Homo sapiens: one gene and its partners. The protein of the gene in region 1 purifies or fractionates together with the protein of each later gene. This does not show direct contact. Each region holds a gene or a part of one and is shown in the gene's direction. Other genes may lie near its edges.

The links. The genes of interacting proteins can lie anywhere in the genome.
Region 2: the proteins of TRHDE (region 1) and LEMD3 purify together in Homo sapiens (affinity purification with mass spectrometry; 2 studies listed by BioGRID and IntAct, with this or other methods). This does not show direct contact.
Region 3: the proteins of TRHDE (region 1) and TSPAN3 purify together in Homo sapiens (affinity purification with mass spectrometry; 2 studies listed by BioGRID and IntAct, with this or other methods). This does not show direct contact.
Region 4: the proteins of TRHDE (region 1) and MAN1A2 purify together in Homo sapiens (affinity purification with mass spectrometry; 2 studies listed by BioGRID and IntAct, with this or other methods). This does not show direct contact.

What each region holds. Positions count from the first base shown.
Region 1 is NC_000012.12:72,270,965-72,275,169, forward strand, and holds the start of TRHDE (thyrotropin-releasing hormone-degrading ectoenzyme), read left to right. Parts: upstream 1-1,405; 5' UTR 1,406-1,679; coding exon 1,680-2,593; intron 2,594-4,205. UniProt on the Homo sapiens protein: Specific inactivation of TRH after its release.
Region 2 is NC_000012.12:65,242,583-65,245,718, forward strand, and holds part of LEMD3 (inner nuclear membrane protein Man1), read left to right. Parts: intron 1-805; coding exon 806-887; intron 888-3,086; coding exon 3,087-3,136.
Region 3 is NC_000015.10:77,047,110-77,050,609, reverse strand, and holds part of TSPAN3 (tetraspanin-3), read left to right. Parts: intron 1-3,500. UniProt on the Homo sapiens protein: Regulates the proliferation and migration of oligodendrocytes, a process essential for normal myelination and repair.
Region 4 is NC_000001.11:117,370,449-117,373,948, forward strand, and holds part of MAN1A2 (mannosyl-oligosaccharide 1,2-alpha-mannosidase IB), read left to right. Parts: intron 1-3,500. UniProt on the Homo sapiens protein: Involved in the maturation of Asn-linked oligosaccharides. Progressively trim alpha-1,2-linked mannose residues from Man(9)GlcNAc(2) to produce Man(5)GlcNAc(2).

The sequences.
Region 1 (4,205 bases):
CACTGGAAAGCTGCAAGAAAGTAATTATGGCTAGGTGAAATGAAAAACTGACCAATCATGGAATGTATTCGTTCACCGTTCTAATAAGCCCAGCTTTTCTCAGTCTCAGGGTTTTGGTCCTGAATGTTACACTGTAGACATTGTGTGTTAATCGTTTCTCCAATCTAAAGATGGGAATTATCCTATGGGGAAAACATCACCTTGCTTTGGCCTTTACTTCCGGAGGATTTTAATGCTTCATTGCTAACATTATTTTAGTACTGCACACCTGGACACATCGCACAGTATAATGTAATATATGTAGTCAGGTTTTGGAGAATTTATTTCAATTTACATACAATCCTCCAAATCCTCTGGCGAGCTTGATGTGAAATCTGACACAGCCACATCTCCCTAGCAGGATCTTCTTTTGCTCTCTATGTTAATAGCCAAAGGCTCCAAGGATCTCTCCCTGGAGCGCGGTGGGGCTAAGGAGTCAGGAAGAGGGGTGACTGCGGGGCTTGTTGCGCTGAAGATTTACAATGTACTTCTTGCAGGCGGCTCAGCAACCCCCTCTGTGGCTGTGGGTGTCTGGTGTGACAGAGCGGAGAAAAGCTCTCTAATCTCCCAGTGCCTGCCTCTGCCGCTCAGTCGCTCCCCTCCCTCCCGCCTTTCCTGCCTCCTCGCGCGCTCCCTCTCCTTTGCCTTTCTCTGGGAGTTTCAGTCCCTCAATGCAGCTGGAGTAGCCCTGGCAATCTAAACCCGAAGCCTGTGTATATACACACACGCACACACGCGCACACACATGCACACGCGCTCGGACATACGCACTTCGGCTCTCCCCCTTGGGATATGGAGCAAACCCAGAGCTTCATCTACCTGAAGGGGATGGCCCGGCCGGACACTTCTTTCTCACTTGTCATCTCCGGAGGGCAGAGCAAGACTGGAATGAGGGAGTCTCGCTGTCGGGTCTGCAACCTCCTGCCGTTTGCCGCCACCGCCGCTTAAAGTGCCCAGGGTGGAGAAGGCTTTTCCAGGACGGATCTCCGTCGTAGCTTCGCGGCCCTGGGACTTCCTCCTGCTGGTTCACTCTAGTCTCTCCCACCTCGGCCATCCTTTTCTCTCCAGCTGCAGGGTGTATGGCTCGGGTGCCTCCCGTGCTGTGGCCGCCGTCACTGCTGCTGCGAGCACATTCCACCCAGAGGACCGAACGCCGCCGCTGGAGTGGGGGGAGAAAGCGAAAGCCCTAACTTCCCTCTCTACACCCTCGCTCTTCCCACCGCTCCCGTCCTTCTCCCTAGCCGAGAACCGGTTGGAAGGCTCCCGCGGAAAGCGAGGCGAGAGCGCGGCGCAGGGGAGGGAGAGCCGGGAGCCGCAGGCGCGCAGGGGCGGGGGCAGCATGTGCCCCGCCGCCGGGTGCTCGTCCGAGAAGTAGCGCGCGCTGGGCAAGCAAGACGCTTTCCAAGTTGGGCGCGTCCCAGAGCTCACAGCCCGGTGTCCAGAGTGAGGCGGGGCTGATGGGGGTCGCGGAAGCTGCCGTCGCTTGTGTCCAGAACCCGTCTTAAAAGAACCCGGGCCAGCATCCCCAGTCGCGCGCCCTCGGCCCGCGTGAGCTCTCCGATGCCTGCTCTGGCTGTGGCCCGGGTGGCCCGCCCGCGGGGGGTGCCAGAGGGGGCGGGGGAGGAGGAGGAGGCGGTGTGATGGCCCTGGACGGCGAGCTGGGGGAGCAAGAGGAGGAGAAGAAAAAGAAGAAGAAAAAGAAGAGGAAGAAGAAGAAGGAGGAGGAGGAGGAGGAGGAGGGGGCCGAGAAGAGCAGCTCACCCTTCGCAGCCGCGATGGGGGAAGACGACGCCGCGCTTCGGGCTGGCAGCAGGGGGCTCTCCGACCCGTGGGCAGACTCAGTGGGAGTGCGACCCCGCACCACGGAGCGCCACATCGCCGTACACAAGCGGCTTGTGCTGGCCTTCGCTGTGTCCCTCGTGGCATTGCTCGCGGTCACAATGCTCGCTGTGCTGCTCAGCCTGCGCTTCGACGAGTGCGGGGCGAGTGCCACGCCAGGCGCCGACGGTGGCCCCTCAGGCTTTCCGGAGCGCGGCGGCAACGGGAGCCTCCCTGGATCGGCCCGGCGCAACCACCACGCAGGCGGGGACTCCTGGCAGCCCGAGGCGGGTGGGGTGGCCAGTCCGGGGACCACGTCGGCCCAGCCGCCGTCGGAGGAGGAGCGGGAGCCGTGGGAGCCGTGGACGCAGCTGCGCCTGTCGGGCCACCTGAAGCCGCTGCACTACAATCTGATGCTCACCGCCTTCATGGAGAACTTCACCTTCTCCGGGGAGGTCAACGTGGAGATCGCGTGCCGGAACGCCACCCGCTACGTAGTGCTGCACGCTTCCCGAGTGGCGGTGGAGAAAGTGCAGCTGGCCGAGGACCGGGCGTTCGGGGCTGTCCCTGTAGCCGGTTTTTTCCTCTACCCGCAAACCCAGGTCTTAGTGGTGGTGCTGAATAGGACACTGGACGCGCAGAGGAATTACAATCTGAAGATTATCTACAACGCGCTCATCGAGAATGAGCTCCTGGGCTTCTTCCGCAGCTCCTATGTGCTCCACGGGGAGAGAAGGTATGGAGGGAGGCGGTGCCCCGCGCTGCCCCACCCCGGCGCGCGGCTCGAACCTCTGGGCGGCCTGCGACCCCGGGGACCCAGCTGGCTTCCAATACCCGGGAAGCCAGGGGTGGGGGGAAGGAAACGAAAGCGGAGTAGGGCAGTCAGAACTCCGGGGTCTCCCAGATGCCTCGGGGTCTCGCTGCCGCCAACTTCGCAAACTGACTCACCGGTGCCAAAAGATGAATGCTGCCCCCTCCTCTAGTCGGGACCTCTCCTCTTCCTGTCAGAGTTCCTTAGCCATCGAAACGCAGGGCTCTTTTTCTGAAGGGTAGCTGATAATCTGAGCGATGCCAGAGTGACATGAAAAGCTTGCCAAGTTACTGTCGAGGGAAAATACGTGGCGCTGAAGGCCAAGACAACAGCGCATCCAGGTTAGCATGTCAGGGCAGGTCAGGGACACACCGTTCTCCACCCCCACCCACAACATGCCCATCTTCCCTGACTATTAGTCTCCTGCCAGGTGCAGAGCAGAGGATGGGCTTTGGCTGCGTCAAGTTTCCCCAAACTTCAAGTTGAGATTCGGAGTGAAAAGAGTGGTTTCCAGAGATAGGCTGAGAGGACCGGGACGGGGGTGGAGGTTGCCAAGGCCAGAGCCAGCGATAAGTGGCCTCGCGGGCGCTGCCAGCTCTGTGCTAAGGCAGGGCGACTCCGGTTGTTTGTTTATGAGTTGCTGCCTCTGGAGATGATTCCAGTGGCCAAGCGGTGGGAAAGCTAGTTGTCAGTCTCAAATGCCTTGTTAGTGTCTTTGCCGCGTTTTACATTTGTGTAGTTTTGTATTTTTATAAAAAATTTCCGAGAGGCCGTGGAGCTTTTCACCACTTGTTTAGAGCTCAGACCTCATAATCCAATAGAACTGAGTTCGAATCTCTGCTGTTCATCTAACTCTGGTGGAGGTTTGAGGAAGGTAATTAACCTTTTCCTGACATGACTACTTCTAGTGCTTATTGCACGCCCATGTACTCAATCCGACAAGAACCCTATGAGGTAGACGCTATTATCAGCATTCCCTATTTTACAGGTGGGGAAATGGAGGCACAGGTGTGTCACATAGCTTGATCAAGATCACCAAGAGTGAGCAGACAAAGCACGGATTTAGACCCAGGGAGTCTGGCTCTTGAGCCTAGACTTTTAATTCTAACTTGGGGATACCAATAATAATATTCTACTTGTAGGATTGGTGTAGACGTCTATGAGTGAATGCATTACAAAGTACTTACCCCTGTGCCTGGCATATAGAGTATCCACCATAAATGCTAGCTCTCATGAGTGTCTTGTGGCAGTAAGCTCTCAGGTATATTGTTGAATGAATAAGTGATTCTTGTTCTTTGCTCTAATTCCCACATTGCTAAGATAACTTAGATTAATTAAATGACTGAGGGCAGATGAACAACCAAAGTGAGCTTAAAAATTAAACCAACAACTTTAGAAGAGGAGGCAGGTTACAGATCAGTAATGAGGCAGAGCCTCTCCTTTTCTCAGGTGATTCTCACAACAGCAGAAAATGGGCTCGGAGAAGCCCAGGGCCCTGGAGGTGAGCAGGCTTGTCAGTGGAGAGTTAGGACTTGAA
Region 2 (3,136 bases), 7.0 Mb from region 1:
TTATCCCTCTTTGTCCAACCTTTCAACAGGTCATGTCATATCTACTCCATAATATGTCCTGATTCTATCCGCTTGTCACTTGCACTGTTGGCCTGTCTTACCCACATCATTATCCTCTCCTTCTTAGACAACTATAATATAATAATAACCTTCTAACTGGTCATCTTGCATTCACTTCTGCTTTTACCTGAGTCTCCACATAACAATGTATTTTTAAAATATGTAGTTTTAAAAGACAGATCTCATCCTATTCTACTCCTTAAAACAGTTGAGTGGCTATTACTCTTACCATAATGCCCAAATACTTTTTTGTAGCCTACATCATCTTAAATAATCTGACATCTTCTGTAGGTTTATCTCTATTCTTTCTACTCCAGCCACATTTGCTCCTTCGTGCCCCAGGAGCTGTGTACAAGCAATCACCTCTGCTTGAAATCTTCCTTTACACACCTCTCTTCACCCTGCTAATTTTTATTCTTCAGTTCCCACATAAATTTCACTTTTTCAGGGAAGTTTTATTTTCTCATATGAGGTTAAGTTACTTTTAAAAAGCTTTTTGTACTTTTTTTTTTAAGGACTTAATCACAGTTGTACTTTCTTACATGACACTCTTTATCATCTGTCTCTCCCATTAAACTGTAAACTCTTTGATAGCAATGACTGTCTTACTCACCTTAACATCTAACCAGGGGTCTGGCTCCTAGTAAAAGCATGCAGTGAATATTTTTTGAATGAACTGAATGATTGAATACCTTTCAACAAACTAGAACAATGTCAAATAGTAAAACTAACTTGTTTTTTGTAGCATTTCATTTAGATAGAAGAAATTCACCACCAAATAGTTTGACACCGTGTCTAAAGATTCGGAATATGTTTGATCCCGTTATGTAAGTATTATGATCAGGGGTACATGTAACTCTTATTCTGAATATTTGGCTGGAAAATGCATGATATTCTTATAATGGTGTGTCTGTAATTGAAAATGTTTTTCTTCTGAATCTCTACCACAGAAATGTTATGTTTTTCTCTTTCATTAAATTCCAAGCAAAGATTTGGCCAAAGGACACTAATGTATAAAGATTTGTAAAACTTTTATAAATCTTTGTATTCCTTATGAATCGTCATAGCAGATAGATAAATGCTTGAGGCAAATTAATGACTCACAATGACAAAGAGTACCCTTTATTAAATGTGTAAGTCATTATACATGACTGTCAATATTTTTGCCTCAGTAGAAAATATAGATACAATCACTGCTGCTTACAAATTTCAAATCTCAAATTGTAAAAAGTTTCCTACAAAGATGTATATACCTGCTTCTCTACAAAGTCCTGTCTCCACTTGTCAATATAATATTTGAAGAACTTTTCAGACTTTATAATTCCAACAACATATGCTTCCAGAGAATAGCACAGTCAAAAGTGACTGCCTTAGAATTCACAGTATTTCATATATAAGCTGTAATAGTTCTTAGAATTAGCTTCCTGAGGGCACTGCTTATCTATCCAGTGATAGTACAGATCAAATTCTGTTTGTTTTAAAAGTCCCAACAGTGGCAATTACAATATGTATACAATACCCCCAAAGTCTCATCTAATCACTCATTGATGAAATTCCAAATAAGTGACAGCAAAATTGGAAATGTGAGGAAGCAGTATGCACACGTGTTTGCACGTGGGCACGCGCACACACACACACACACACCCCCCCCACACACACAGAGACAAACACCGCCTCTATTTTGCAGAGATAGAAACAATTAGTAGTGTGATGATACCTCTGTTGGGAATCTTACCTCATGCCTTAGGAATTGGCAAGTCCACTATTTTATTACCTAAGATGAAAATTTGTGATTTGAAGTGAAGTCACTTTCCTCTCTCTCCTGCCATCTTTGTCTCACAAGCAAGACAAATGTCCCTTACTACAGCAGAAACACCTTAAAACTGTCATTATAGTAAGGTGACTGTACAAAATGTTAGTCCTGTATCAATTATTTTGGAAAAGAGAAGCTCAAATGTAGTATTTACTAAGAATTTTCTTTAGGAATTTGAACCTATCATTACAATTAAAGAAAATAACATTCGGCTGGGCACAGTGGCTCACACCTATAATCCCAGTGCTTTGGGAAGCCGAGGTGGGTGGATCACTTGAACTCAGGAGTTCGAGACCAGCCTGGGCAATGTGGCAAAACCCCGTCTCTACAAAAAATACAAAAGAAATTAGCCAGAATTGGTGGTGTGTGCCTGTAGTCCCAGCTATCTGGGAGGCTGAGGTGGGAGAATGGTTTGAGCCTGGGAGGCACATATTGCAGTGAGCCGAGATCACGCCACTGCACTCCAGCCTGGGTGACAAAGCGAGACCCTGTCTCAAATAACTAACATTTAACTTTTACAACTTTAATAAGTTCACAACTCATTTAAAGTACTTATTAACAATAGAAAGAAAACAGAAATTACTGTAAGTACACAGGATTTTTAAACATAGGAATGACCCAATCCATTTATTCTGCAGCGGTGGGCTAGTCTTTCATTGCCTCAGCTCTCTGCACTCTTTTTTTTTTTTTTTTGAGACGGAGTCTCACTCTGTTGCCCAGGGTTGAGTGCAGTGGCGTGATCTCGGCTCACTGCAAGCTCTGCCTCCCAGGTTCACGCCATTCTCCTGCCTCAGCCTCCCGAGTAGCTGGGACTACAGACACCTGCCACCACGCCTGGCTAATTTTTTTTTTTTTTTGTATTTTTAGTAGAGACGGGGTTTCACCGTGTTAGTCAGGATGGTCTCGATCTCCTGACCTCATGATCCGCCTGCCTCGGCCTCTCAAAGTGCTGGGATTACAGGCATGAGCCACCGCGCCTGGCCAGCGCTCTGCACTCTTTTACTGGAAAGTGGGAGGAGGGCTGAGACTTCTGAATTGTAATTTTTAAATCTACCTCCTGTTAGTCAACAAGCATTTACTTAATACCAATTAAAATCGTATGTGGTTTTAAAACTATACCAATTCTAGTAATATATATATGTTGTAAGAGACAGTGAAGAATTTTTACCGAGTAGGAATATGGTTGTTGATTTTTGTTTTCATTAACTTTTAGGGAAATAGGGGATCAGTGGCATTTGGCAATTCAAGAAGCAATTTTAGAAA
Region 3 (3,500 bases), on another chromosome or scaffold:
ACTGTATGGTACTTGTGGTCATGAAATATGCAACATGTATATAGAAGACTGATAAAAATAATCACTTTAGCTATGTCCCTCATCTAGTTAAGCGGCTTAGCCTGCCAGACATTTCTTTATTAAATATTTTTCAATAGGGGCTAATAAATATTTTAACTAGTCTCTTAATTTAAATATGACTGCCATATGTGTTTTATACTTAAGTCACCCTGACTTAAGTAAAAGCTGATAAAGCTTGATTTTTTCACTTCAGCAAGGCTGCTTAAGTTTAGGGATTCAGAGCTTTCACAGACTCAAAACCTAGTGGTTTTGAAAATTTTAAAAACTTGGGTTTTAAGGGGAGAAAATTTATCTGAATTAATAATTTTCCCTAATTGTTTTTAAGAGTACCTGTAAACATTCTAAGCTTCTGGTATTCAAAATCTGATAGATTGGTGCCCTGGGTGTGGAAAACCTGAACAAAGGCAGAAATAACTGAAAGATCAGTGAGCTTTTGTGCTTATACACTGATCCTAATATAGACATTTAGAGCTGGAGAGGATGGTTGGAGAGTCTCCAGTCTTGGCCCTCTTTGTTTAGCCACAAAATTTTGGGTGAGCAAGGATAGTGTGGCATGACCATCACACAGAGTGTCAACTCTAGAGACCCCTGCCTTTGTTTGTACTCTGCCTCCAATTACAAGTATAAGATTTGCAGAAGATTAAATTCCTAAATTTTGTCAGGAAACCTGACAGTTAATTGACACTTTAGCTGGATAAAATACAGAGGTAAGATGGCAGAGTTGAGTAGTTACAATATTGATTGATTTTTGTCTTGGTTTGGAAAGCCTAAAATATTTATGATATGGCCCTTTAAGAAAATGTTTGGTGACTCTTGCTCTAGTCCATTAAATAATCTAGATTTGGGTAGGACCAAAGTGACCAAGAAAGAAAAACCTGAAAAATACCAATTAATTATAATAACAGGACTTTTGAATATAAAAGAATGAGGTTTTAAAAATTTTGATGTACCCCTTATTAATTAGCAGGATATTTCACTTCTTTGAGAGTAGCCACTCTCTTAACTCATGATCAATTATGAATTTTATATTTAAAGAATCTGGTCATAATAATTGACAAAAATCTAGATTTTGATTTGTCAAGCTCCTGAGTATCTGCTGTGAGTAAGGCTGTCTCTCTACAAAGGCAATACGGGGAAAATGTTCTAAGTCTTTACTTTGGGGTCTCATGAAGTTGGCATATCCTCAAGATAGAACGATCAAGAGCAGATTTCATAAAGAACTGTTTCCCAAGGCCATGTTGCTTTTTTTCTGGTCTCTGTGCCGCATGTGAAGCCGGTGGAGACTGCTCTTTCCTCCTCCTCCTCAATTACCAGTTATTCGTTAAAATGAGAAACTTCCTCCTCCTTCCCCTCACACCCTGGCCAACATTGCAAAATGTTATATAAATGAATTCATATAGTTTGCAACCTTTTGTACCTTCTTAAAAACAAATTAGTGTATTTTGGATATAGATCTGCCTTTTTAATTTCATGTCTGCATAGTATTCCATTTTATAGGCATACTTTAATCAATATTGATGGGCTGTTTATAGCAAAAATTTGTAACTATGAAATTACAGTATCAGAATGTATGAATGAATTTTGATAGGTATTTCCAATTTTTTCTCAGAAAAGAGTGTTTCTAATGTGCAAAAGTTCTTATTTTTGTATAAGAATGCCTATTTCCCCATACCACCAGCAACATGGTATATCATAGAACATTTTACTTTGCCAGTCAGTTTTTTTAATCACCACTAGTCATTTTTTTCAATTTTTGCAGTTGCTGGGTGTTATATTTGGGCTAAGTGAAGTTTAATTCTCATGCCTTGAATATTGCAAGAGAGTATTTCATTGCAAGAAATAATGTTGGAGATAAAATATTTGTGTAATGTTTCCAAGTATGTTGTTGGAATGTTTCAAAAATCAATGGAATTTCAGTATAGCAGGCCTTTGGAAATGAGCCTGTAATAGTTAATGGTGAGGATAAGAAATTATTATGTAGAGCTTAATATTCTTAAGCAGACTGATTCCCAAGCATGAGTAGAATTTTATCAAGTTTATTTGTTTTAAAATCAATACAAGTTGATTTCATTGAAATAAACAAATTGGGAAAGAAATACTTATTTCAGACCTCATTTTGAGAATGCTGGCTTCTCTAATAGAAGTTAACCAATTGAAAGGAGTGTGGGGAGGTGGGGGTGGGAAGAGAGATTTTTTTTCCCTTAGCAAACCAGTCATTTCTGAGCTTAGCATTTTTATTGCTCAATTTAACATTGCCTGAGAACATAATTGCATTTGAGTTTATAGCTGTTCTAACAATGTTTTGATGTACAGAGAACAGAAATGTATTTCTCTAGGAATTAGGTACTTCATCGGTCTAGAATTGACTTAAATTGTTTAGTAAACTTTAAATAATATTCACCTCTTAAGTGTGTTTAAGGTGCTTTGCAAATGGTGAAATGGTGCAAATGGTGCAAGTGGTGAAATAGTGAAACTGATGGATTTGAGCAGGAAATATATATCCCGAATGGGCAGAATATAGGTTAATGTGAGGGTAGAAATTGGAGTGGGTGACTTTATACCATGGAGAATTCAGATTGAGGACATCCTTATGTGTATGTGTGTCTTAGTAGTGGTTAATCTTCCACTTCAAACTTTGAGAGTCTGTTTATGGATTGGGTACATTTTGCGGAAATTAGATTGACCCCCAAATGTACAGAGGACCCTGTCTTTTAAAATCAAATAACTGAGGCTTTTCCTCATCAATGAGAAGTTAGAACAGCAAATTATCTCACAAAAAAATTATATTTTGGGAGAAGGTAGGTCAAAAATTCTAGAATCATTTTCTCTTTAATCCAGCTTAATCCTTTTGCTTATCCAAAATAACATGGCATGACTTTATTACTATTCCAATATGCTACCACAGAAGGTTTAGGACTTATTGAAATAAAATGATGACGGAAGAGTGACCTTTCAAAAGTAATATGTATGTAATACCACAGAACCGTGGATTTCAAAAATAGTGAATGTGAAGGAAACAAAAAACCTTCCAACTACATTTTTTTTGGCATCAGAATTTGTTTTCTACCATAGGGCTATTCACATACTGAATTTCGTTTTCCAAAAACCAAAAGACCTGAAAAGACCACTATTAAACACACACATTCTTGCTCATTCTACTCCCCAGGCCTTTGCTGTCCAGAATGGTAGCCACTAGCCACATGTGTCTACATTTAAATTAATTTAAATAAAATTAAAAGTGCAACTCAGTTGCAGTAACTATATTTCAGGTGCTCAGTAGTCACATGAGGCCACATGACAGTGCATATGTGGTATGTCTCCATCGCTGCAGAAAGTTCTTTCGGACAGCACTCGCTAGACTAGTAGTGGGGATGCCAAATAAGAGAGACTTGATTCCCTGCTGGCTTTACGAAGAGTTCCTGGGAGGGAAGCTGAAGCTT
Region 4 (3,500 bases), on another chromosome or scaffold:
TTATATCAGTTGACATTTGCTTTAGCGTATTATTTGCTGTTGTTTACTATATCAGAAAAGAGTCTGTAGTAATAAACTTTCTTTTACTTTGAGCAAGGAAATACTTTTTAAATTAAGTGTATGTTTAAAATGTGGAAACAGAAAACATCAAATGTATAAACATTAACTTATTTAAAAATAATTCAGAAAAATAGCACTTTTACAGTTGGTACTAAGATCATATGTATTTTGGGTATGGGTCAGAACTTACCTAATTTAGAAGAAACAAATTGACAGTTTATCTTCATTTAGTGTGTGTGTGTGTGTGTGTGTGTGTGTGTAAGGGTACAGGATAGAGGGCTGAGGAATGTTACTTTAACTAATAAGTAATGGAAAATAAGTCATGGTCACCATTTCTTATTTGCAGTACTTAAGAGATACTTGTTTAGTTAGTATTTCTTTATTAATAGATTAGTATAATAATTTGGTGTTTAAGTTCTGGAGTCAGACTGTATAGATTCATACCCTAGCTTGCCACTGATTAGATTTATGATACTGAGAAATTTTAAAACTCTATATTGTTTCCTTTGTATCACAGTGGCATGTATCTACTTTACAGATTGTTTTATTGAAAGAGATAGTACATGCAAAGCACTCAACATAGTTCCTGGCATTTAGTAAATGATCAATAAATGTTAACTATTATTATCATCAGTGATTATAATTGTAATGGAATATTTTTATTCGGAATCTACTTTCCTTTAAATACTGTATATTTTCTGAAAAGTAGGGTACAGTTTGATTAATATTTAGAAGTATACTAGGATCTTATTGTCTAAAGGAACATTTTATAACCAAACTGGTTGGCAACAAATGTATGCCTACTGTGGCAGGCCCCGCTTTCATGAAACTTTCAATCTAGGGAGAGATGATGGGCATTAAATAAATAATTTTGTTTTTGAGGTGTGATGAATGTTACGAAGTTGTACTCAGTGCTTTCAGAGCAAGGAATGTGTGACCTAGTCTATAGAGTTGGGGGTGGAGGGGCAGTGGGAATAAGGAAGACTTCATTGAGAAAGTGTGCCTCAGAAACGTAGAATGAGTAGGAGATTGCTTAATGAAGTGGAATTGGAGGTTGAGGGGAGGTTGAGGGTCAAAGCAGAAGACACAACATGTGTGAGAGCCCTAAGGAAAAAAAGCTTGGCATCACTAAGAATCTGAGAAATGTTAAGTATGGCTGTTGCAGAGGGTGTGGGTCTGGGTGATGAGACTAGATGAGAGGTCAGGTTTGGCCTGCTTACAAGTTTTTTGGCCTCCTTATTGTTGTTACAAAAGTTTGAATTAGTTGTCAGCATTCACAGATCAGGAGATTTCATGTTAAAGTCTGGATTTCTGATCTTTCTTGAAAAATTAGAGGTTATGGCAACATCCAGTGTATTTTCAGATGGTAATATTCAAGCCACAACCCAGTAGCAGCTGCTCCCTTGGGAGGGGGACGGGGGCGGGCATGTGCCACTCAGAGTGCGAAATAAGTAAATACAAATCAATCAATATTTAACCTGGTTGTTGTTGAGTTTGCAAATTCTAGTCAGGATTCTAGAGAGTTTGTAGTTAAATATTTTGGTTTTTATCATAAATACTAAGAGAAGTTATTGAAGGATTGTAATAAAAGCAAGGGAATGACATGATCATTTTAAATTAAAAAAATTAAATAATCACTTTGGTTGCAATGATTACTTACTGGATGGTAAGAAGCAGGAGGATAACAAGTTAAGAGGGGCTGGGTCACAGAGGATATATTGGCTTAGATCGCAGTGGTGATAGTGGAGAATGAGATAAATTAGTGGAGAAAAGTGGTTGAGTCAAGAGGTGTTAAACTATTAAGTTTCACAGAAAATGGTGGTTGGTTAAATATGGGGCCAAAATAGAAAGAAAAGTGAGTCCAAGATAATGTCTAGGTTTCTGGGTGACATGGCCATGGATTAGTAAGAAATACATACTATATTTAATTAATGCCCTAATTTATAGATAATAGTGGTATTACATGAATTTAGTATATTTTCATGAGGAAACCAATATGTTCCCTTCTATTAAGTAGTTCATAAATAATCCAGAATTTTCAAACACTGTAGATACACTTTATAGATGATAAGGATATATCAAATGTGTAGTTTGGTGTTGATTATGGTTATTTATAGTATCTATGATTTTGCAGTACCCAAAACCAGAAGTTGTTATAATATACATGTTGTTATACGCTAATATACATAAAGTAATATACGTAAGTATACTTTGTGTACATAATAGATCTCAATAATTAAAAACTTTTTTTTTTAAAACTGACATTTGTTTTATATAATGGCATTTATAGATGGGCTTTGTGAGTTAAAAAAAAAAAAACCCAGCTTATGAGCTGTTTATCTGAATAGCTAATAAGTTTCACCCTCCAGTCAGAACTTTGTTAGTCTGAATTGAATACTTGAGGGTCAGGTATATGTTTACCTTTGATACTTTCCTCAAAGGCATTGGAGTTATAAATAAGGCTGCATCTTAGTTCTACTAACTAGCTGTGTGGCATTGTGCTAGACGTAATCACTCAAACCTGTGCGCTGTCCAGTACCATAGCCACTAGTTATATATGACTATTGCACTTAAAATGTGGCTAGTCCAGGCTGCAGTGTGCTTTAGTGAGTTTCTCAAGTTCTTCATGTTATGATTCGTGTTTTTTTTTTGCTTGATTCAGTTTTGTTACAAGAGTAGAGATTTCAAATCTCACTATTGCAATTTTAATTTTCTTGTCATCTTTCTTTGTCTCATCCCTCTTCTGGACCTTTTTTTTCTATCCTGTTTTTTATTTGGGGCTTTCTGCTCCTGTTTGGGCGACGTCACATTGTTTTATGCACTAATATTAAAGTCTGCTGGATGTTCCATTTCCCTTATAAATTGCTCATGGTTATTTTTCCCACTTCCCTTTACTCAGACATGAATTATTGTGAGGTTTGTTTGTATTTGACGTTTGTCAACAACAGACTGGTGTAGATGCCTTTGCTGCATTTGTTTTTTTTTTTTTTTTTTGGGTACATTCTGTGGTCCAGGCTGGAGTGCAGTGGCACAATTACAGTTCACTATAGTCTCAAACTCCTATGCTGAAGTGATCCTCCTGTCTTAGCCTTCTGAGTAGCTGAAACTATGGGCATGAGTTGGGACTACAGGTGTGAACAACCATGCTAGGTTAAGTTTTAATTTTTGTAGAGATAGGGTCTTACTTGTTGCCCAGGCTGGTCTCAAACTCCTGTGTTCAAGTAATCCTTTTACCTTGGCCTCCCAAAGTGTTCGGATTACAGGTGTTAGCCACTGCACCCAACCGAATCTTATTTTTATCGATATGGATACTTTCAAATTGGAGCTCATGCCTAAGATTGGAAAGTTGGTAATGCAGAAGCTAAGTATCTTCTAGAAATCAGTAGTACATGGTAAACATTAATTGATTTTTTTTTTTAAGTGAAAGCAAGTTTATTAGA